3 separate regions of the Homo sapiens genome follow, and regions 2 and 3 are each linked to region 1. The links come from fine-mapping of genetic effects on gene expression. A gene starts in region 1. Each other region holds a variant in brackets. All regions are shown on one strand. Distances are from middle to middle. Region 1 holds the start of FAM221A (family with sequence similarity 221 member A). Region 2 overlaps STK31 (serine/threonine kinase 31). Region 3 overlaps FAM221A (family with sequence similarity 221 member A).

Region 1 (8,187 bases):
GGGATAAAGAACATAGTAAGTGATGTCTTTCTGTAAACAACCAAATTCAGAAAGATATTCTACAGGAAAAGTGATCCAAATTCTTCAACAAATTAATGGCACAAAAAATTGGGATAGGAGAAAGGGAACTGTCTAAAATTACAAAAGACTCGTAATATATTAAACGCATATAAACCAAAGGTAGTATAGGCCTTGGTTGAATTCTAATTAGTATAAAATTAGATGACACTAATTATCATCTAATAAATTAGGTTTATTAGATGATATCTAATAGATGATATCTAGGCTGGGTATTCTTAGATGATATCAAGGAATTATTGTTTAATTTGTTAGGTGTGATAATGGCATTGTGGATTTTAAAACAAGTTATTGGCCGGGCGTGGTAGCTCATGCCTGTAATCCTAACACTTTGGGAGACCGAAGCGGGCAGATCATGAGGTCAAGAGATTGAGACCATCCTGGCCGACATGGTGAAACCCCGTCTCTGCCAAAAATACAAAAATTAGCTGGGCGTGGTGGTGCGCGTCTGTAGTCCCAGCTACTCAGGAGGCTGAGGCAGGAGAATCGCTTGAACTCAGGAGGTGGAGTCTGCAGTGAGCTGAGATCATGCCACTGCACTCCAGCCTGGTGACAGAGCGAGACTCCATCTCAAAAAAAAAAAAAACCCAAAAAACAAAAAACGAAAAAACAAGTTATCTGTTGGAGATACATACTGAATAATTATCTTTCTTGTCTTGTAGCTATCAACTGTCAAACCATTAAGACAATAAGAATCAGGCTGATCAGGATTAAGAATGACTGAGAGAAGATTGCAGAGACTTAGACTTTAAGCTGGGTGCAGTAGCTGGTTGAGATTTTGGGACTGCCTTACTTAGAGGTCTGATGAATGCCTTTAGTGTGCAATGCCTGCATGGGAAGAAGGGCATGCATGGATATTAATCAGTTTAAGGATAAGCTGTCACCAACCATGTTTCTTGGTGAACTAAACACATTTTTAACCCAACACACATTTCTTTTTTTCTTTTTTTTGAGATGGAGTTTCACTCTTATCACCCAGGCTGGAGTGCAATGGCGCCATCTCAGCTCACTGGAACCTCTGCCTCCTGGGTTCAAGCAATTCTCCTGCCTCAGCCACCCCAGTAGCGGGAATTACAGGCATGAGCCACCACACCTGGCTAATTTTTGTATTTTTAGTGGAGATGGTGTTTCACCATGTTGGCCAGGCTGGTCATGTACTCCTGACCTCAGGTGACCCACCTGCCTTGGCCTCCCAAAGTGCTGGGATTACAGACATGAGCCACCGTGCCCTGCCCCAACACACATTTCTAACCCTCTCCTTGACAATTGCCATCATAGAGCCTGGAAAACTAAGTACTGGATTGGCTTTCCCAGTTTTCTCTATACCAAGGTGTGGCCATGTGAGACATAAATGAAAATTTTTTTGCAGAGGCCTCTAGGAAAACTCTTTGATAAAAGAAACAAATGATGTTGGTGGCCCTCCTTTTTCCTTTCTTGAATTTGGGTATGATTTCTGGAGTTGTAACAGCTCTTGCAACCATGAGGAAAATGCTCTAAACCAATGTGAGCAACTACCTACCCCCACTCTTCTTTAAAGCAATAAAAAATAAAATTTATGTTTAATTAAGCCACTGTTAGTTGAATTATTCTGTTATTTTCAGAAGAAAGCATTCTTAACCTATACATCACAGCAAAATGCTGGCAAATCCTATCTCATAAACTTTCATGAGGATTGAATAAATAAAATGCCTAACACTTGCCTAGGCAATTTACATGTTCCTCTGTCCACCCTACTTCCTAGATCAATTTAGCTACACATTGGGAGGAAGTTATAGTTTGATTATACCTTTTTATTAAAGCAGAGGTGAGTACCATATACAGTATTTTAATTTGCAAATCTGTCAGCTTTATGTAAGGTCAGGATAACATTTTCTAGTTTGTTCCATACTCTTATTCGTCACGCTCAATATTTTTGTTGACTTCTTTGGCCAGAAGAGTTTACTGCTCCAGCATCTTCCTGGAAGAGTCCACAATTGGGCTAAATCTATTTTAACCATTTCCCTCTAGATTTTTAAATTGTACTTGCCTACACAGACATTCCCCTGCCACTTTTCTGTAAGCCTGCAGAGCCTGGCATTTTCTTCTATTTTTCTTTGTTAGTTCAGTTGCTGCCTAAAAGCAAGACTAGGCTCTCATAGAGGTAGAATGGGGCTGGGCGTGGTGGCTCACGCCTGTAATCCCAGCACTTTGGGAGGCTGAGGCGGGCAAATCACGAGGTCAGGAGATCAAGACCAGCCTGGCCAACATGGTGAAACCCTGTCTCTACTAAAAATACACACACACACACACACACAAAAGCCAGGCGTGGTGGCTAGTGCCTGTAATCCCAGCTACTCAGGAGGCTGAGGCAGGAGAATTGCTTGAACCTAGGAGGCAGAGATTGCAGTGAGTCGAGATCCCGCCACTGCACTCCAGCCTTGGAGACGGAGCAAGACCCCATCTGGGAGGTGTCGGGTGGAAGAGGTAAAATGGACAGCAGCAAACCACACGTGTGATAGGAGAGAATACTGAGCTGAGATCAGTTTCCTAAAATATGAATCCGATTTCAGGATCACTCATTTATCTGACTGTCAAGAACGCCTCTGAACAGGAGGAAGACTTTGGGGAGAGGGTGGGGTTTGTTGAAAGGGTACCGAGAAGGGAGGTGGGTGGTACCCAAACAATTTGTTTACATAATGTTTTATGGACCTGAAATATGTAGAACAGTACTTTGAAACTAAAGTACTGTACTGAAGTTTAATTATTTTTCTTATTGTTTGCATATTCTCCCTCCCAGATACTTTACAGAGGGCGCTAAAGCTGATCCCCTGGGAGCTTCAGAGTTTAATGACTTCGCCTGAAGATTTCCTATTCTTTTCCACAACGTGCTAAGTCAAATTATGGCCAAATTACCAATCGCATGGTAATTCAGCTTCTAAATATATTTTGCAGAGTGTTTCCAAAAGTTAAAAAACAACAACAAAACTTCACCTAAATTGTTTTTACTTGCTTCACCTTAAATCAGTTATTCGGTTCCTTTGAAGAACATGTAGCTTTAGCAACCCCCAAAGTGAACCCAGATACCCAGGACTACTGATTGTTACATCAGAGTTTTTGAAAACGCCAATACTGGAAACAGGCCGACAGTTAAGGAGAGGCAGGCCTCAAACTAAAGCAGAACCTTCTCAAAACTACTTATATTTCAAGAGATGGATTAAGCGAAAAGAGCTGTACAAAGAAATAAGCCATTTTCTATGCGCCTGTTATATGCAAGGCACTGCACTCCCTTGTCACTTGTTAATTTACAAGAAGACTCGCCGGTCCAGGGAAGGGAGAGGGGAATAGGTGCAAGGTTTGTGGAGGGCGGCAAACTGCACTCCATGTGGCGCGAGGCTGCGCTTGCGGAGATCCGGGTTCTGGTGCCTGGCGCCGGCAGCCAGTAGGGGCGCGCGTCCTGCGCAGTTGCCGCGCGCGGCCTCCTCGGGCTTCAGGCCGGGCCAATCAGGAGGCGGGCGGGAGGGGGCGCGGTACCGGGAGGGAACGGGGCGGGTCGGGCTTCGAGGTCAGCTGGTCCGCAGGGAAGCCTTTGGCTTCCCCACCGGCAATGGAGCGGTTGACGTTGCCTCTCGGCGGCGCGGCGGCGGTGGACGAGTACCTGGAGTACCGGAGGTGAGGCTGTGGCTCCGGGCCTGCCCCCCCGCCGCTCCGAGGGGCCAGGATCCCTGGGCTGGGGGCGCGAGCAGGGGCCCGGCGGGCGTCCGCGGGGGTTCCCGGAATCTGTGCCTGGGCTGTTGGGGGAGGCCTAGATGAATTCCAGTTTAGTCTTTGCCTAATTAAATATTGTAGGGCCACGCGGTTCTATGCAGTGATGAGTCTTCCAATAACATTTAAGAGGCCCCTCTGCTCCCTTCCAAGAAGGATGACTAACTCTAGATTGATACAGAGGTCCAGCTGTTTTTTAAATGGCCATTGAAAACAGGCACATCGAGTACTCGGGGCTATAGAAGTTAGCATACATCAAATTAACCCAGTAATTGAGTCAACCGTGAACTTCTGAACGCGCTCCCCACCCCGAGGTGCTGGTTTTAGGAGAAAGGCACCGACTGGTGTTTGGTATTCTGGAGAAACCCCTTCCGAAACTGGAAACGGAGTCGCTCCTTTGGCCTGAGGACGCGGTTCATTGTCCTGGATCCTGACCGAGGCTGGTGCACCTGCAGCGACGCGCTCTTTTTCCGCTTCCTGGGGTTTTTGATCGTCCGGAATCTGGGCGGATGGGAAGTCCTGGAGAGGACCGCCTGAGGACGCGGAGTTGGGGCGGGAGGATGTGTGTGTACAAGCGGAGGGGAGACGCTCCAGGCTCCGCCAGGGAGGCCGGAGCGAGCGACAGGGGCTCCTCTGCGGCATCGTGGGTGGCCCAGATGACCCAGAGGTGTGCGCGCAGACGGCCCCCCAGCTGACTGTTCTCCCCTGCTCTGACTGCCCTGTTTGTGTAGTTTTGGGTAACCCTTAGAACTGCCTGGATATTCTGAGCCAGAAGAATAAGGGCTAGGAGCTTGATGGGGTCAGTTCCCACGCCCGGTTCAGGGTCAGAACAACCACCATCCCGTCCTCTCCCAGAGCAGAGCCGGCTCCTTTAGCCTCCAGTTCTCCAGAGCTTTTGCCTGGGAGCAAGTTGCTGGAGCTGGTGTTGACTGATAACTTGGATATTTAGATATGTGAATTGTGGGCCTCCAGTTGACTCTTGCCTAGCTCCGAACATGTTAGGGCAGACCTATGTATGTAGTTATTTATTTTATTGAGAAATTATTTAGTTATTTATTTTATTGAGACGGGGTCTGACTCTTTCCCAGGCTGGAGTGCAGTGGCGCGATCTCGGCTCACCGCAATCTCCGCTTCCTGGGTTCAAGTGATTCTCCTGCCTCAGCCTCCCGAGTAGCTGGGACTACAGGCGGCCAGCTAATTTTTGTATTTTCTGTAGAGACGGGATTTCACCACGTTGCCCAGGCTGGTCTTGAACTCCTGGACTCAAGCTATCCACCTGCCTCGGCCTCCTAAAGTGTTGGGATTACAGGCCTGGGCCACCGCGCCCGGCTGGGAAATTATTTTTGCAATCGTAAATAACTTGCAACACTTCCCTCTGAAAGAGATTATCAGGTCCTTTACTGACGTCAGAATTTTAGAAAAGTGGGGAAAACAGGACTTGAGTACCTAGATATGAAAAGGTGGGCTGGGAAGGTGGGGTGGGAAGATGAGTCAAAATATGAGTTTAGAAGGAAACAAACTTTCCTTCCGAAGAGTTTTCCTGGATTTGCTCTTGCCTAGGTACTTCGGTGGGAGTCGGTTGGGAGGGGAAGCATGCAGCCTTGTTACTCACACTGTGGGAGGCCCTGACCAGTGTCCTGGCATCACCTGTTAGCTTGTTAGAAAAGCAGAATCTCAGGCCCACTGCAGACCTATTATTATTATTATTATTTAGAGTCTCGCTCTGTCACCCAGGCTGGAGTGCAGTGGCACTATAATGGCTGACTGCAACCTTGACCTCCTGAGCTGAAGCGACTCTCTCTTCTCAGCCTCCTAACTAGCTAGGACTACAGGCATGCATCTCCGCACCCAGCTAATTTTAAAATTTTTTGTAGAGATGGGATCTCACTAGGATGCCCAGGCTCATCTTGAGATCCTGGCCTCAAGCAATCCTCCCACCTCAGCCTCCCAAAGTGCTGGTATTACAGGTGTGAGCCACCACATCTGGCTTTATCATGTGTGTGTGTGTGTGTGTGTGTGTGTATGTATATATATATTTATTATTATTATTATTATTATTATTATTTTTTTTTTTAGATAGAGTCTTGCTCTGCTGCCCAGGCTGGAGTGCAGTGGCGCTATCTCAGCTCACTGTAACCTCTGCCTCCGTGGAAGTGATTCTCAGTGCCTCAGTTTCCAGAGTAGTTGGGATTATAGGTGCCCACCAAAATACTAATTTTTGTATTATTGGTAGAGACAGGGTTTTGCTATATTGGCCAGGCTGGGCTCGAACTCCTGACCTCAAGTGATCCTCCTGCTTCCGCCTCCCAAAGTCCTGGGATTACAGGCATGAGCCACTGTGCTGTGAGTCTTAATCTGCATTTGAGCAAGATCCCCTGGGGATTCTGTAAGTACAATAAAATTTGAGTTGCACTGGTCTAGAACTTAAATACCAATGACATCTTACTTTTAAAAGATCTTTTAAAGATCCGTATTTATCTTAAGATCTTAATACCTGTTGGTATTCTTGATAGCTACAAGAAAATGAAATGGCCCAAAATTTATCTCAGAATTAAATGCCCTTTGTTTCTTTACTATTATGTATCTAGATTGTTTATGTAAAGAAGGCGGTTTTGATTATTTCATAGCTTATAAATTGGTTTTTCTTTTTTTCTAATGGCAAGTACATAGAGCAATGGTTTTTATTTTCTACCGCAGCTAAAGGCTTCAAAGTATGGAAAAAAGCATGTATTGCACAAAAAAGTATGTAGCATTCCACAAACATCACTTTTTGTGACTTTTCAAGGGGAGTATTTTCAGGGAGAAATGTCTTCAGTTTTGGAAAAACTTCTTTTAGTCGTGCTTTCTTTTCCTCCAGGGAGGCCAACTCTTAATTTCTTTTCATAGAAATAGTGGGGGCTTTATGTTTTCCCATAATATTTTGGGTTCTTACTTCTGAAATTAACCCATGATAAACTTGATTACCTAACACACAGATGTGGTTGGAGCTTGTGCTGAGCCAAGTGTGTATTTAGGTTCCGCATTAGTTTAAACCCCTGGCCAGGGTTTGGAGACAGGTATGGAAATTAGTCATGTTGGCTTCTGCTTTGATGTTTTTTGTACTCTTTTGGGATACATTTTCAAAGGAGGTAAATGTTAGAATTTTGAGCAGTTAAGGCTCTACCTTTAATGAGAGGAATGAACATCTTTGCTTCAATATCAAAGGAAAAGCTGAGACGAATATGTGGTAATCCTCTGTTGATAAACCTGGATCAGTAAAGTTGCATTATGAATTCATTGTCTTTCCTATTTATAACCCTCTTATATAGGAAGTGGAGGGGAGAAAAGATTTCTTTTCTCACCCATCACTAGGTTCATGGCTGAGACACCTATGTTTCTGGATCAAACCGATAGTTGGGCTGCCTATTCTCGTGGCCCAGTAATGTGATTCAGATGAACTGGGAAAGAAGGGAGATTATTTCTGTAACTGGTTATAGGGAGAAGGCCTGGAAGATATCGCCAGACCAATTCAAAATTACATATGTTTATAAGTATATATATGTTTATGTGTAAGTGTGCATTTATCTAAAGACATAAATGATTAACTTCTAATCTATAACTAAGATCTGAGTCCTGAAGACCTTCCTCTGGAGCCTCAGTAAATTTAGTTAATCTAAATGGGTCCAGGTGCTGGGGTGATTACTCTGGTCTTGTCTCCTGCTGAATCATGGAGGTTTGGGGAGTTCCTTCAGACCCCCAGTAAACTTGTTTGTGGAGGTCTGGGGAGTTTCTTCAGACCCCCAGTAAAACTTGTTTAGTCCCAAACGGGTCCTTTAAGAATTCCTTCGTTATGTTGTCATGCTTCGAGGCCCAGGAAAGGCCTGGGCAAACGCTCGGTGGGCTTTTGTTACATTCCAGCCTTTGTATAAGGACCCTGGTTCTATTAGCTTTTAATATTTAACTTAACCACTCAGTCAGTGCTGAAACAGTTGTTACAGAGACCCGGCCTGCCACATCTGTAAGAAAAGACAGATTTACAAAATAAAAGCTTACAAATTTATTTAATATTTGCAGTGGCCTGGTCATAGCTCACCCAGAAAATAAATACTCAAAGCTTAAGAGAAATATATATTTTTGTTGTAGAATTGTTGGTGAGGATGATGGAGGGAAACTTTTTACTCCTGAAGAATATGAAGAATACAAAAGAAAAGTTTTACCTCTGCGCTTACAAAACAGATTATTTGTGAGCTGGCGGTCACCAACAGGGATGGATTGTAAACTTGTGGGCCCAGAGACACTGTGTTTTTGTACACATAGGTAAGATACTTTATTGCAAAGTTTTTTGATAATTAGAAAATAAAAAGCTAAGCATATCTTACTTCTACAAAT
Region 2 (8,187 bases), 42 kb after region 1:
GATCTGTTCTCCTTTGATGGGCATTTGGATTTTTTGCAGTTTTTAACTACTCTGAATGAAACTGCCGTGAAATCCTTATATAAGTCTTCTGCTGGATGTATTGACTCATTTCTTTTGCACATATATCTAGAGTAGAATTGCTAAATTGTAGGGTAGACATGTTTCTGCCAAAGTAGATACTGCCAAACAGCTTTGCAAAAGTGTTGAACCAATTTACATTCTTATCAGCAATTTATGAGAGTTATAGTTCCTCGATATCCTCACCAGCCCCCTGCTTTGCTAGTGTACTGAGGTTGTGTTTTAATATTTTTATTAGCCCTTTGGAAGGGGTCTTGTGAAGTACCTATTCACATCTTTTCCCCATTTTTAAATTAGGTTATTTGTCTTGATTGATTTGTAGGCATTCTGTATGTTTTTTTCACTTTAATTTTCATTTTTGTTTCTACCTCTTAAAGTCAATGATAAAGTCACAACTGTAAAATGAATGCATTTAAAAAATAAAAGATATATTTCAATGACAAAAAGTATGCAATGATCATGAAAATCTACTGTACACTTTGCCAAGGCCAAAGAATGAAAGACAATATGAAAAAGCCAATCTTCAAATATATCCTCAACAAAAACTCCCTCCTAAATAGTAAAATTATCATTTAAGAATATTTGTCTTTACACATCTAAACAGAAGCTCTAACCAAAAAAAAAGTGGGGGAAAGGGCAGATGATAACTCTCCACAAGTTTTCCAGATATAAACATGTGGTCACCAGGAATTCAAGATTAAACTTCTAAAGCAACATTTAACTCAAAATAAAGTGAACATTTCTGACAGGTGACAACAGTAGTATGAAACTGATTTTTCCTTTCCTAAATAGAAATGAGATGGGGCATTTCAGTAATCATCTAAGAATAACTGTAGAAATACTCCCAATTCTACCACCCCACCCACTGGTATAAAACAGATACCTTCCATGAAAGTATCTTTCACATTACTGAAATATCCTCACTTACTTGGGACAATTTCATGCTTAGATGAGTATAAACACTTGTTTTTAGGTGTGTGGAATTATTGGAGCTGAGATTTTTGAAACAATATCTGAATCTTAGCAGAGATATAATAATACTTTCACTATACATTGATTGGGCTTCCTTAACCAAATCTGAGCAACTACTGTAATAACAATGCTGGTGGTAGTCCATGATACTCTCAAATTTTTTCCCTTTAAGAAATATATAATCCATGTAATACTAGTAAATATGTTACATTGTACACCTTCTTAACAAAGAATGTCTGTTTTCAGGCCTTACTAGGAAAACAAACAAACAATGGCAGTTACTGCCTGTTTTTATCACTGATAAGCTACAATAAAGCTCAAATGATGGATGGTTTACGTGTGTGATATTAAGTACAAAATGAAAGCCATTATAATTTTACCAAAAGAAACACGAAAAATATGGGAAGAAGTGAAATGAACATGGCATGGGTCCCAAAGATTACGATATGTTTCAGAACAGGATTTTGAAAACAAACAATTTCTGTGAATATTTCTTATACTAGAAAGATCCAAAGCAAATCTAGGCAAGCTTAGCCCTACCTTGTCAAAGATAAATACTCAGATAAGTTGGAAGTTCCGTTTGCTAAAGTGCATCTGGGATCATATCTACCCTGCTACTTAGAGACAGCCAGGAAGGTGGCCATCACTCATGCTCTTTCACTCTTTCTGTGTCTTATCAAGAGTCACACGTAACAATTTTTTTTTCAAACCAAATGCTTTATATAGTGAACTACAGGAAAAACAATTCTAAATACACTTTTAAAATGCTAGAGAGTTAAGATAACCTCATTAAAGAAAAAATACTGAAAATGTAAAGGGTCCATACAAACTAAGAGCTGTATTAAGTGTATACTTTCTATTTTAATAATTCACTTGGCTGTGCTCTTAAAATGAGAGAAGCAGATATTTTACCCATGTCTTCTGGCAAGAGATTCAAAAGCAGAAGTAGCAGGACTGTAAAATTTCATAAAATTTGTGGGATTTTTTAAAGCTAAATTATTCAATATCTTGTACAGTTTTGTACCCATATATTACCCCGGAATATATGTACAGCATCCCAGCAACAGTGACTGCAACAAAAGTAAGGTAAATAGGTCTACAAAGCATTTGATTTCCTTATTAGAGAAAGTTTTTATAGAGGAAATGCAAACAACTGCAATTCAGATCACATTATATAAGCTTGATGATTATTTAAACCTTATATAAAATTAAATCTAACCCTTACCACTACAAATCTGTAAGGAATCAGAAAAGGATTTATAGTACACAAGTCTTGATTACTGTTTCATTCCACTTTGATATCACTCTGAGCTAAAACAGCATTCTTCCAAGATTTAAAGAAAAATAGATTTTATAAAAGGGATTCTTTTACATTATTATTGTTACTGACAGAAACAAGTTTTGCTTTTTTCCACTATAATTCGCTCTGATGAAAGAAATAATTCTCTCTCTTAACTCCTAACAAACGCTACATTTTCAAGACTAAGGGAATTACTGGTGGCATTCTTTCTCCTTGATCTAAACTATTTGTCTCTAAAATATGTCAAGTAAGCTTTTAAAGATTCAGGAAGGGGCAGCGTTGTGATTTTTTTCTCAGTAAATTTTGAGGTGGCTCCTCTGGCTTCATTGCTTCACTGTGATCTTTTTCTTCCTCTTCTTTGTTATCTTCCATTTTTTCATCCTCCTCTCTGTCCAGAGGCTGAGGAATAAGCTGATTACCCACAAATATGTATGTGTTAGTTCTCTGTTTAACTCTCTTTTTTTTTTTCCTTTTGGGTGGAGCCCTTTGCGGAATCCCCTTGGCCTGCATCTCATCATTTATGAAATTTCTAAGTGTGCGTCGAATGTAAATACAAGCCAAGCCCTGTGGATTCCTGACAGCACAGGGAGGGAGTCCCACAGAATCTGGTTTACCATTATCATTCTTACTTGGCTGCACAAGTGGAGCAAATGACACAATAAGGATATTTTTCCTTTCCCAAGTGTTTTGTCCAGTTCTGCGTTAACTGATCCTCTACAGGCATGATCCTCTACATTCATTTGATCTTCAATCAGTGATACCCTTTCTTCCACTTGATCAAATCAGCTACTGAAGCTTGTGCATGCGTCACGTAGTTCTCGTGCCATGGTTCTCAGCTCCATCAGGTCATTAAGGACTTCTCTACACTGTTTATTCTAGTTAGCCATTCGTCTAATTTTTTTCAAGGTTTTTAGCTTCTTTGCAGTGGGTTTGAACATCCTCCTTTAGCTTGGAGAAGTTTGTTATTACCA[A/G]TCGTCTGAAGCCTTCTTCTCTCAACTCATCAAAGTCATTCTCCATCCAGCTTTGTTCCGTTGCTGGCGAGGAGCTGCGTTCTTTTGGAGAAGAGGCGCTCTGATTTTTAGAATTTTCGGCTTTTCTGCTTTGGTCTCTCCCCATCTTTGTGGTTTTATCTACTTTTTGTCTTTGATGATGGTGACGTACAGATGGGGTTTTGGTGTGGATGTCCTTTCTGTTTGTTAGTTTTCCTTCTAACAGTCAGGACCTTCACGTCCTCAGCTGCAGGTCTGTTGGAGTTTGCTGGAGGTCCACTCCAGACCCTGTTTGCCTGGGTATCACCAGCGGAGGCTGCAGAACAGCAAATATTGCGGAATGGCAGATGTTGCTGCCTGATCGTTCTTCTGGAAGCTTCGTCTCAGAGGGGCACCCGGCTGTATGAGGTGTCAGTCTGCCCCTACTGGGGGGTGCCTCCCAGTTAGGCTACTCGGGGGTCAGGGACCCACTTGAGGATACAGTCTGTCTGTTCTCAGATCTCAAAGTCTATGCTGGGAGAACCACTACTCTCTTCAAAGCTGTCAGACAGGGACGTTTAAGTCTGCAGAAGTTTCTGCTGCCTTTTGTTCAGCTATGCCCTGCCTCCAGAGGTGGAGTCTACAGAGGCAGGCAGGCCTCCTTGAGCTGTGGTGGGCCCCACCCAGTTCAAGCTTCCCGGTGGCTTTGTTTACCTACTCAAGCCTCAGCAGTGGCGGACGCCCCTCCCCCAGCCTCGCCGCCGCCTTGCAGTTCATCTGAGACTGCTGTGCTAGCAGTGAGCGAGGCTCCGTGGGCATGGGACCCTCGGAGCCAGGCGTGGGATATAATCTCCTCGTGTGCTGTTGGCTAAGGCTATTGGAAAAGTGCAGTATTAGGGTGAGAGTGTCCCGAATTTCCCGGTACCATCTGTCATGGCTTCCCTTTGCTAGGAAAGGGAATTCTCTGACCCCTTGCACTTCCTGGGTGAGGCGATACCTGCCCTGCTCCGTGGGCTGCACCCACTGTCTGACAAGCCCCAGTGAGATGAACCCGGTACCTCAGTTGGAAATGCAGAAATCACCCGTCTTCTGCGTCGCTCACACTGGGAGCTTCAGACTGGAGCTGTTCCTATTCGGCCATCTTGGAACCTCTCTCTCCTCTTTTCTTTATAAATCTTGATTTTACTTTTATTTGCTGAAACAGTCTAATGCCAATTCTCCTTTCTATATTAATGGAGAATGAGCATGCAGATAAGTGTCTCTATATGATTCCTTGACAGATTTCTTTCAGAGACTATGTCTATAAAAATTAGCCCATCTGAGACCCATCATTGGAGCCAACTCATTCCTCAATTTTTAAAATTTTTTTTATGGGGGGATTACAGGTGTGAGCCACTGTGCCTGACCTATGACTGTGTTTAATATTGTTATAAATTAAGACATACTCCTTTTCTTCTATTGAATATAAAATTAATTACCTTATCAAAAATTTAAACAAGTGTCAGTAATTAAGTGATTAATCAGCTACTTCTGATTGTTCATAAATGGATTATACTTTGTCAGTTTTCCTTAGTGATCTAAATGGTTCTCTCCCTCTGCCACCATGTAGAAGGGTCATAGGCTATGAATAGTGGAGTTGTGGGAGGAGAAGATTGGGCCCAGGCACAATGAGAGTGAATATATAGTTTTCACTATGTCATGAGAACAGATAAGTCTATCTGGGATAGATTTACATGTTTTGGTGGTTGTATTACACTAACAGAGCCACGAACTTCAGATTCTTCACTTTGTTGAGTACTGTTATACCTAGGCGAGTTAGAGAAACGCCACACTCTGAGACGAATTAAGAGTCCTTTATTTAAGCTGGCGGCCAAAGAGACGGCTAATGCTCAAAATTCTCTCGGCCCGGAGGAAGGGGCTTGATTAACTTTCATACCTTGGTTTAGGAAGGGGAGGGGAACTCAAATGCAGTAATTCTACAGAAGTAAAAACATGCAAGAATCAAAAGAAGCAAATGGTTACAGAGAGATAAACAATTTAAAAGACAAATGGTTACAAAAAGCAAGGTACCAGGTGCAGGGCTCTAAATCCTTCATTATAATTAGATATAAATGCTATGCCGGACAGGAACTCAAGGCTTTATGTTGTTATCTCTTTGAAAAAAATCCTGGGAACTTCATACATTGTTTGTGCCAGTACCTTATCAGTTAATTGGGCTCCTTTGAAATGCTGAGGATCTGCTTACACAGGTCAACTCCTTGCGGAAGGAGGTTGGGTAAGGAGCCCTTAGTGTCTTGTAAATTAAGGGGTCAATTGGAGTTTGTCCGGCTTTCCCAGCTAGAGAGAGTCTTACTTGAGAAGCAAGGCTAGGTGATTAAAGAGACAAACAGGACAAAATTTAAAGTAGCGAGTTAGAGTAAAAACAAGGTTAGGCATTACAGTACCAGCTCTATTCTTGGACACAAGTGTTCCCAGCCCTGCCTCACCTGGTTTGCAATAAACCATTGCATATCTGTCGCTTACCTTATACCAAATTATTAATCATATTGTGATGTTATTACAAAGCCTTAATTAAAGATGATGCAGTCTTTTGCAGGGATTGAAATTGGTTAGGACTGTTGATTGTCAGCTATTTTTGCTACTTACCCCTGTCTTCTTACCAGGGTTGAGAGAGAGTACCGTACTATTACTGCTCTCTCTTGCCCTTTAGTTGTTTAATGTTAGCTGAAGAAACCGGAGTTAATTATGAATTGAATACACTTATCCTTTGTAGCTTTTGAATTGTTATTTATTTATTTGTTTGTCTGAATTTATGTGTTCTTTATTGTTTTGGTGAATAGGTTTGGTGTTTAGGTTTCATAAAATAAATCTGTGGATTTGTCCTAGTTCAGAGTGATACATTGAAATTAATTTTATAATCCATAACTTAAAGCAGTATTCTTCAGCCATTTTTCTCATTATTCCCTCCTAAGGAGCATTTTTAGACCTGTTTTCTCCCTAATGGCCTAATGGGCCTTCTCCCCTTCAGATATTTTAATACTACAGATATACAGTATATAATAACTATGTTATCAGTAGGGTTGAACTTTGGAGGGCTACAGACCATTGTAGTGTTTAAGATTTCCAACTCTCCATAAGGACCACTTTTATTCCCCTTAGGGATATTGCCCCAGTTGAGAATGTATGATTTAAAGCTGTTAAGGCCAGGCATGGGGGCTCATGCCCGTAATCCCAGCACTTTGGGAGGCCGAGGCAGGAGGATTGGTTGAGGCCAGGAGTTCAAAACCAGTCTTGGGCAACATAGTGAGACCCTGTTTCTACAAAAAAAAAAAAAAAAAAAAAAAAAGCTAGGTATGGTATGTGTGCCTGTAACCCCAGATATTTGGGAGGCTGAAGCGGGAGGATTGTGTGAGCCCAGAAGTTTGAGGCTACAGTGAGCTATGATCATGCCACTGCACTCCAGCCTGGACAACAGAGTAAAACCTTATCTCAAAAAAAGTAGTTATCAGCCTGCAGTGATTTTTGTATCCTTCCCAATCCAATCATGGCTTACTTCATTTTTGTTACTGTAAAGAAATACCTGAGACTGGGTAATTTATAAAGAAAAGAGGTTTATTTGGCTCATGGTTCTGTAGGCTGTACAAAAAGCATAACTCCAACATAGTATAGTTGAGAGTTAGACTTAAGTGGCATGTACTTCGCATGTTTATGTTTTAAAAAAATTATACCAATTATGTCTTCAGACATTAAAATAGTATGATTTTAAGTGTTTGATGCCTGTGTCTTCTAAAAAAAGTCTTTTTGCTTTTTATACAACTCTAACAAGGGACTCAGGGTGCTTCCACAAATATTAGAAGGTGAAGAGGAGCCAGTGTCTGTAGATTACATGGTGAGAGAGGAAGCAAAGGGAGGAAGAGGTGCCAGGCTCTTTTCAACAACCAGTTCTCTTAGGAACTATGAGTGAAAACTCATTCACTTCCACGAGAATGGCACCAAGCCGTTTTTAGGGATCTGCCTCTACTATCCAATCACCTCCTACCAGGCCCCCCTCCAACATTGGGAATCAGATTTTAACATGAGATTTGGTGGATGATATCCAAATGATATCCATCTAAATCATAGACACCTTCAGGAGACATTTGACAGTGTTTGGAGACGTTTTTGCTTGTCACAACTGGAAGTGGTGCTACTGGCATCTAGTGTCTAGAGGCCAGAAGGGATGTTGGTAAATATCTTACAATGCACAGGACAGAGGACAGCCCCACTCTGCCACTCAACACAGACTCATCTGGTCCCAAGTGCCAGTAGTGCTAAGGCTACTTTGAAGTTCGAGAAAATGAAAGCCAGCCTGGGCAACATGGTGAGACCTTGCCTCTACAAAAAAAAAAAAAAAAAAAAAAAAAAAATACAAAACTTAGCCCAGGCGTGGTGGTGCGTGCCCATGTTCCCAGCTACCGTGGGGACTGAGGTGGGAGGATCACTTGAGCTTGGAGAGGTTGAGTCAGCAGAGAGCCATGACTGCTGCACTGCACTCCAGGCCTGGCGACAGAATGAGACCCTGTCTCAAAAAAAAAAAAAGAAAAGAAAATGATTGAAAGTACATAAATTTTCTCTTTATTCTTTTATTAAACATCATTCAATTGAGATATAAAATAAAGTACAGTATTAAAGATATTATCTAATTTAGTTTTATCTACTTAATAGGACTAATGTCCTTATACGTAAAGTAAAAAGTATGAAATCTTTCTTGCTTGGTAGGAAATATGAATTCCACTATAGTTGAGAGTTAGACTTACGTGGCATGTACTTGCCATGTTTATGTTAAAAAAAATTGTACCAATTATCGCCTCAGATATTATAATAGTGTGA
Region 3 (8,187 bases), 25 kb after region 1:
TTTTTTGTATTTTTAGTAGAGACGGGGTTTCACTGTGTTAGCCAGGATGGTCTGGATCTCCTGACCTCGTGATCCACCCGCCTCGGCCTCGCAAAGTGCTGGGATTACAGGCATGAGCCACCGCGCCTGGTGCCTATTTTGAATTCTTAATATGTATTATTTATTCTTCTTAGAGGCTTTTAGGTGTATCCAGACTCGTTAAAATTACCCAATACACATCTGGGCACAGTGGCTGCTTTTTTGCTTTAACTACAATGGAGGAGGAAAAGACTTTCAGAAAGGTAACTGTGGGAATATAGAAACCAGAATTATAGAAAACTATCCTTAAAGCAGTCCACGTTCCAGAGAGAATCCAGCTGGATTAGGTGCATTATGTAACTCTGTAGGGAATGTGCATAGGCTGGATGTAAGTTTAGTCATTTTAAGCACTTGTAATTTTAGTGGCAATTGAAATTGTTTTCTCTAAAGCAATATTCATATATTACTTTTATTAAAATGCTTCTGTAAAATTAAAATAAAACCATCTGAAAATGTGTAATTATGTCCCTTTAACAGATTTTGGCTTTAGTATTTAGCAGCTTAATAACTGTGGAATGGCTGTGACATGAATCTGAATGAGTTTTCTGCAAGTTTTTTTTCTTTAGAATGGTTTACAAGTTATTATATCAATAAATATGTTAAATTTACAGATGAAAATGGAAAAGGCTGCTAAGTGGAAAGGAAAAGCTCCATTGCCATCAGCTACAAAACCTTCATGAAGACTATTGGAGAAATTAAAACCATCATCCAAGTATCTTTTTCATGTTTATTTAAATGTAATAATACAGTTTATTTTTCCTGAAATTATTTACTTTTTTTTTTTACTGTATAAATGTCTTTTGGGATGTTTCCTTAATTTATTTAAATAACTAAAAATGCCTATTACTTTTGTCAAAACTCATAATTTACTACTTTGTATGTACCTTTCTTTCTCCTGACAAATGAGGTTATTTTATATGAGTCTGTCTGAGAGTACAGTAAATGTTTTTAGTACATAATAATTTAACTGTTTCAGGTATTTAAAAAATTAAAGATATTATCAAGGGTTTTGGACAAACATATGAGCCATTTTTTTGTCATTCAAAATAGTAAGTTAAAAACAAGAGAACAAAAGAAAAAAATAGTTAAAATCATTAATTTTTTTATTTTTCAAACTTTGTAATGTTATGTTTTCAAATAAAAACTATCTCAAAATTTTACAACCATTTTCTAGTGATATTACTGATTTTTTTTTTCAATCTTTCTCAGGCTGAAGATATCTACTGATTTTTACGTTGTGTTGTCAACCACCCATTGTCTATGACTGTACTGGACACATCTTGTGTGCCACTGCAAATCCTCTTGGCCCCGTTTCTTACTCCATTACTGCTGTGGAACACTTTCCAGCAGGCTTCTGATAGCGGAAGCCATTTGATGGCACCTTGTCTTGGGCGCATGTCATGGCTCTCTTGCTTCCTTCTGCAGGGATCTTCTGACACTGTGGCTTGGGATGCCCACTAGAACCCCACTGTATGATACATATGCAGCCCAAAGATGTTGGGGAGCTAGTGACTTTGGGGCCACTCTTGATTAATGGGAGGTGGAAGCCCAATACATAAGTGCTCTCCCGTCTGTTGGGAAGACAATTCTGAAATGCATTTCATAAACTTCCTCAGAAAGTCCTATCGTTGAGCTCCAGTCACCCATAGCAGTGGCCAACTCAATAATAATATATCCTTATCTTTCTTTTTTCCTTTTCCACTCCTCTACCCCTCCCTCTAGTTCCCTCAGATCACTTCCCAAATAAACTACTTGTATAACAACACTTACAGGTATAAGAACATTTGTCTTAGGCTTTGCTTTTGGGCAAGGGATAAACTCAGGCTAAGATGGTTAGTACCAGGAATGGCCTTTGACAGCAAAGACTCAGGATAGTATCCTGTGACTGGATCAGTTACTGCAGTGGATTTGGATGAAGTGCAGGTGGCAGGTGAAGTGCTAGGTTATGCAGTCGCTGTGCCACTACAGTGAAATGGGACTAGTGGAAATTATAAAGATTAAGTATTCACTTGCTACTGTGAAATGCTTTAGGAGCTTTGAAAAAGAAAATGACACAGGCTCATGATAGCCATTTAACTCAAGGAATGCTGTGAAAGCCAGAGTCCCTCTGTAGCACTTTCAGGAAACTCATCTGCAGATGCAGGGCAGACTGTGCTGCCAATGAGGCCCAAATCTAATAGTAAAGGTGGCAGGGCTGCAGAGGAGACAGAATGCACAGCCTTGCTAGTCCCCAGCAAAGTCAGTGCTGACACAAAAACAGTGGAACCCTAAATCACAGGATGGGACATTTGTGTTGGTGAGCCTGAGAATCTTGAATCCTCAGGTTTCCATGAACTCTGAGCTGGCACAAGCCGTGTCCTCCAATTTTCTAGTGGAGAATAGCCTGCCCTTACCTTGAGATTCTGTAAAGGCTTTATCTGAGGCAGTTGCATCACAAGGTAACACTTATCCTCCTCAAGATCCACCCTTGTTTCCTCTCATTGACTCCAAAGTAATAACTAGGATCAGGTCTTAGCAAACCCTAAGTTGGGGAATACAGTCCTTCCTCTAGGAGGATAGGTTTCACTCTGAATCAACTGCAGATTCTGGTTAAAATGTATTGGGAGGAACCCAGGAAACATGTCTGAGAGTAGATCTTGAGGATATTGAGTCAAGGGGTGGGGTGGAGGTGGAATATAAGGCTTGATAGGAGAGAGTGACATGGGAGCGCTCACTCATGATGCATGATTTAATTCCCTGGCAAGAATCTCTGGAGTTGCTCCTAACACAATGCAAGGATGGCATATAGAAGATATGATAGGCATGCTAGCAGTTATCTGACATAGTATTGAGGAAGCGGTCAGAAAGCTCAGGGATGTATTTGTTGTTTGAAACTGGAGAAGTTATCACCCGACTTTTCCCTGGGAGGGTCCAGATGATATTCATAACTAAGGCAAAAAAATATATAATGGTAGTCAGGTGCAGTGGATCACACCTGTAATCCCAGCACTTTGGGAGGCTGAAGTGAGAGGATTGCTTGAGCCCAGGAGTTCAAGACCAGCCTGGGCAACATAGTGAGAGCTCGTCTATACAGACACACACACACACACACAC[G/A]GTGGGCATGGTGGTGCATGCCTGTAGTCCTAGCTTCTTGGGAGGCTGAGGTGGGAGGACTGCTTGAGCCAGGAGGTTGAGGCTGCAGTGATCCTTGATCATGCCAATACACTAGCCTGGGTGACAGAGTGAGATCCTGTCTCAAACAACAACAAAGAGAAATGTAATGGTGAAGAGCATACTGGAAACTTTGAAAAGCTTGGCAATGGTTGATTGACCTCTACAGGCTAGAACTGATGATGGAAGATGCTGTCATGACAATGGGCTCTGTGGTATCAATGTAGATAGATGATGGGATGCTGAAATTTTGAAGGCCAAGTTGCAGAACTTAACTGTCAGGGGCCCAGTGGACCTAATTAACTTAATGGGCACCTAGGCATGAATCTGTGAACAAGGTAAAGTTCATGATGTTCCAAGGGGCAAGACAGAAGGACAGCTGATTAGGATGTTATTTGAGTTGTATAATTGACTTGTTATATAATGATGTTGATTGACTTGTATTATTTGACTCCTCTCACCCCTCAAAAAAGAAAATTGAGAATTGGCAAGGAGAAGGCTGACATCAATCTTGGTAATGAAAAACCATAGTTCCCCATCCAGTTTCCAGATCTAAAGCTCATGATGCAAGGGAAGGCCCAGATCCCCTCGAGGAAGGATCATCCAATATATTTGGTAAATATCCCCCTAATCCTTTCTCCAAGGGGCAGTCACGTACCATCATTTACCAAGGTAACTGTGCAATGGATAAAAAGGAATAGTCAGATTTTTTTTTTCAACCAATGACTGTTGGATACAGTGCCTGACCTGACATGGATTCCAGAAGACCCAAAATACCATTGTGGTTCACTGGTTAGAGTAGGGAAGCTCAGTGACAAATGGCGTCCTGGCCAAAGTTAATCTCACAGAAGGTAAAATGGGTCTGGTCCCACTCTTTACTTCTACTCTCCCTATATATACATAATTGAGATAGACATACTTTGAGGCTGACAGAGCCCTTGGACCTACACTGATGGCTCTTGCTTCTTGTCCCAGGGCTTCTTAGATGCTGTAGGACAGACTTAATGACCTAGATGCTTCCCTTGACCAATGGGTCATGTCGACATAAAGTCAGTAAGGATATAGAAGACTTGAACAACAGTATTAACCAACTTCACCTAATTGACATTTATAGAACACACTAACCAAGAACAGCAGAAAACACATTCTTTTTTTTTTTTAGTGCAAATGGAACATTTACTAAGATTGACCATATTTTAGGCCATAAAACAAGGCTCAATATTCTTAAGATGATTTAGATCTTAAAGTATATCCCCTGACCACAGTGGAATTAAATTATAAATCTATAACAAAGATACATGGAAAAATCTCAAATGTTTGAAAATTATATAACACATGTAAATGATCCATGGGCCAAAGAAAAAAAGTCAAAATGGGAATAAAAGCACTTGTAATTGAAAGGCAATGAAAACACAACATCATATTTGTGGGATGCAGCTAAAGCAGTATGTAGAGGAAAATTTATAGCACCAAAATGCCTTCATCAGTAATGAAGAAAAATCTCAAATCAGCCCTTACCTTAAGTAACTAGAAAAATAAGAGAAAATGAAACTATAATAGATAGAAAAGGGAAAATAAGACCAGAGTATAAATTGAAATAGAAAACAAAAGCAAGAGAGAAAATCAATAAAACCAATAAAATTTATAAACCTCTAGCCTGACTAATACGAGAGAGAGGGAGAGAAAGAGAGAGATAGAGAGAGAAGGCACAAATTATCCATGTTAGGAATGAGAGTGGTGACATCACTATAGACTCTACAGACATTAAAAGGATACTAAGGGAATACTATAAATAACTATGCCAATTACTTTGACAACTCAGATGAAATGGACAAATTCCTTAAAAAAACACTGTGTTGTAAGTCCCCTTTGTGGGATATTTAAAGATCATTCCAGTTTGGCCATGGAAATTCCAGAGAGGCATATAAAATTAAAGACGTCATTATACTCATTTGTTCTAGAAAAGGGAGGCATGACATGCCACATGGGGGCTACATATAAGGTTTGAACGCCAAGGGAGCATGCTCGAGCTTAGAGAGAGTGAGGACCCATGGGCAAGTGCCTTTACTGGGGGTCAGAGCAGAGTACACAAGAAAACCTGGGAAGGGATTTCATTGGTGCTTTTTGAATGTCATTAGGTCACAGTCGGGACGTGGCAGGAAATAGCCTATCACCCTGGTACACCTGGTCACTTGGGCAGGGTGGTTATAGCCTATTTGTGGGGATATTGAGGCACCAGGAAAATATAAAGTTAAAAAAATTACAATATAGACACAACTATCAAGCTCATTAAATACTAAATGGGTAACATGATTAGCCCTATATCTATTAAAGAAATTGAATTTGTAGTTAAAAACCTTACCACAAAGAAAATTCTAGATGGCTAGAATGTGCACTAGAGGAAATGATGCCTAGATGGCTAGATGGCCGCACAGTGAATTTCACCAAGCCTTAAAGGAACAAAGAATATCAATTCTATAAGACTCTTCCAGAAAACTGAAGTTGGGAATTCTTTGCAACTTATTCTATATGGCCAGCATCACTCTGATATCAAAACCAGACAAAGCCATTATGAGAAGAGAAAATTTCAGACCAATATTCCTCTTGAACATAGATGCAAAAATTCTTAACAATTTTAGCAAACCTAATAAGACAATATATAAAAAGGATAATACATCATGACCAAGTGAATTTTATCCAAGAAATGTAAGGTTGGTATAACATTTGAAAATTAATTGATGTAATTCATCATATTAATAAACTAAAAAAGAACCACATGATCATTTCAATAGATATGAAAAGAAGTATTTGACAAAATTCAACACACATTCATGATAAAAATTTTCAGCAAACTCAGGATAGAAAGTAACTTCCTTAATCTATTAAAGGTATCTACTATAAACCCACAGCAAACATCATACTTAATGGTGAAAGGAAAATGCTTTCCTCTTAAGAATAGGAACATGGCAAGGGTGTCTGCTCTCAGCACTTATTTTCAGCATTACACTGAAGGATCTAGCCACTGCAATACGGCAAGATAAAAATAAATAAAAGACTTCCAGATTGTAAAGGAGAAAGTAAAAACAGCCTTTATTTGCATAAGACATGATCATCTATGTAGATAATCCTGTTAAATTTATTTTAAAAACTATCACTAGAAATAGGCTAGACTCAGTGTCTAATACCGGCACTTTGGGAGACTGAGGCAGGAGGCTTGCTTAAGCCCGGGAGCTCAAGGCTGCAATGACCTGTGATAGCACCGCAGCTCTCTCATCTGGGTGACAGAGCGAGACCCTGTCTTACACACACACACCCACCCACAAAAAAACTATCACAGAAATAATACACAATATACTAAAGTTATATTTCTATATACTAGCAACAAAACAAACAAGTTGAAATTAAGAAAATAATACAATTTACAACGGCATGAAAAATGAAATTCTTAGGGATAAATCAGACAAAAGTAAAACTTTTATAATGAAAAGCATAAAACATCACTCAGCGAGATAAAATAAGACCTAAATAAATATACTGTGCTCATGGATCAGAAGACTCAATATAGCTAAGATGTCCATTCTCCTCAAATTGGTGTATACATTCAATGTGATCCCAATCAAAATCACAGCAGGCTCTGTGTGTGTGTGTGTGTGTGTGTGTGTGTGTGTAGATGCTGACAAATTGCTTCTACGATCGCATGAAATAAAACTACCGTAATTAAGACAGTGTGGTATTAGTCTAAAGAAAGCAAATAGATCAGTGTAACAGAACAGAGAATCCAGAAATAGACTTGCGTATGTATGGTTAATTGATCTCTGACAATAGTGCAAAGACAATTCAATAGACAAATGACAGTGTTTTAAACAAATGATGCTGGAAAAATTAGATATCCATATGCAATAAAATAAAATTTGATTGTTTCACATGTTATAAAAATAAACTCAAAAAGGACTATATATCAAAATGTAAAGCTTGAACATGTAAAATTTCTGGAAGAAAATATAGAAGAAAACTTTTGTGAACCAGGCTAGTCGGAGATTCCTTACATACAACACAAAAGCATGAACCATAAGACAAAACCGATAAATTAGACTTTATTGAAATTAAAAACTTTTGTTCTTTGAAGTACCCTTTTTAGAAAACAAAAAGACAGCTGTAGACTGGGAGAAAATATTTTCAAACCTGAAGGAGTTTTATCCACAGTATATAAAGAACTGTCAAAACTCAATAATAAATTCAGTTAGAAAACAGGAAAAAGCTTGGACACCTCATTTAGGAAGATCTGGATGGAAAATAAACATAAGAAAAGTTTCTCAACATTTTTAGTTAGTAGAGAAATAAATGCAAATTAAAATCACAAGGAGATACCACTTTAAACATTTATACATGAATGTTTAAACTTAAAAACACAAACCATATCAAATGATGGTGAGGATATAGAGCAACTAGAACTCTGAAACCCGCTGGTGGGAATATAAAATAGTACAACTGTGTAAAACTATGCGGCAATTTTTTAAGCACATATACAATTCTATGACTTGGCCATTCCACTCCTAGGTACTAACCCATGAGATATGAAAACATATGTCCATACAAAGACTTGCACACAATAGCAGCTTTATTTGAAACAATTCAAAACTGGAAGCAGTCCAAACACCTATTAAAAGGTAGATAAACAAATTGTGTTATATTCATGCAGTGGAATAGTAACAGCAATAAAACCCAACAAACTCTTGACACATAGGACGAAATTTATCAATCAAAATAATTATGCTATTGGAAAGAAGCTAGATTAAATGTTCATACTGTATGATTCTATTATCGTAAAATTCTAGAAAATGCAAACTAATATATGGTGACAGAAAGCAGAACGGGAGCTGGGAGGAGTCAGGTATTACAACCGGGCATGAGGAAACTTTGAGGTGATGGAAAAGTTTATCTTAATTGTGGAGGTGATTT

What was found. PIP is the estimated chance that this variant, and not a neighbour inherited with it, causes the effect.
Region 2: its variant is the best candidate, but not a certain one, in a credible set for the expression of FAM221A in whole blood (INTERVAL, PIP 0.67).
Region 3: its variant is the best candidate, but not a certain one, in a credible set for the expression of FAM221A in whole blood (TOPMed, PIP 0.63).

The regions. Positions count from the first base shown.
Region 1 is chr7:23,676,558-23,684,744 of GRCh38, forward strand. It overlaps FAM221A (family with sequence similarity 221 member A), which reads left to right and starts at 3,642. Exons shown (of 7, transcript NM_199136.5): 1 at 3,642-3,726; 2 at 7,942-8,115. The coding sequence starts at 3,662. RefSeq lists a silencer at 3,576-3,865 and an enhancer at 4,196-4,445.
Region 2 is chr7:23,718,734-23,726,920 of GRCh38, forward strand. The region is part of intron 4 of STK31 (serine/threonine kinase 31); the gene reads left to right. It also overlaps the pseudogene PCMTD1P3. Among named protein-coding and RNA genes, the nearest start is that of STK31, 13 kb to the left of the region's middle. RefSeq lists enhancers at 4,803-5,330, 5,331-5,858. The variant A/G (reference allele first, on the strand shown) is at 3,322.
Region 3 is chr7:23,701,407-23,709,593 of GRCh38, forward strand. It overlaps FAM221A (family with sequence similarity 221 member A), which reads left to right. Exons shown (of 7, transcript NM_199136.5): 7 at 690-1,244. The coding sequence ends at 758. Among named protein-coding and RNA genes, the nearest start is that of STK31, 4.7 kb to the right of the region's middle. The variant G/A (reference allele first, on the strand shown) is at 3,172.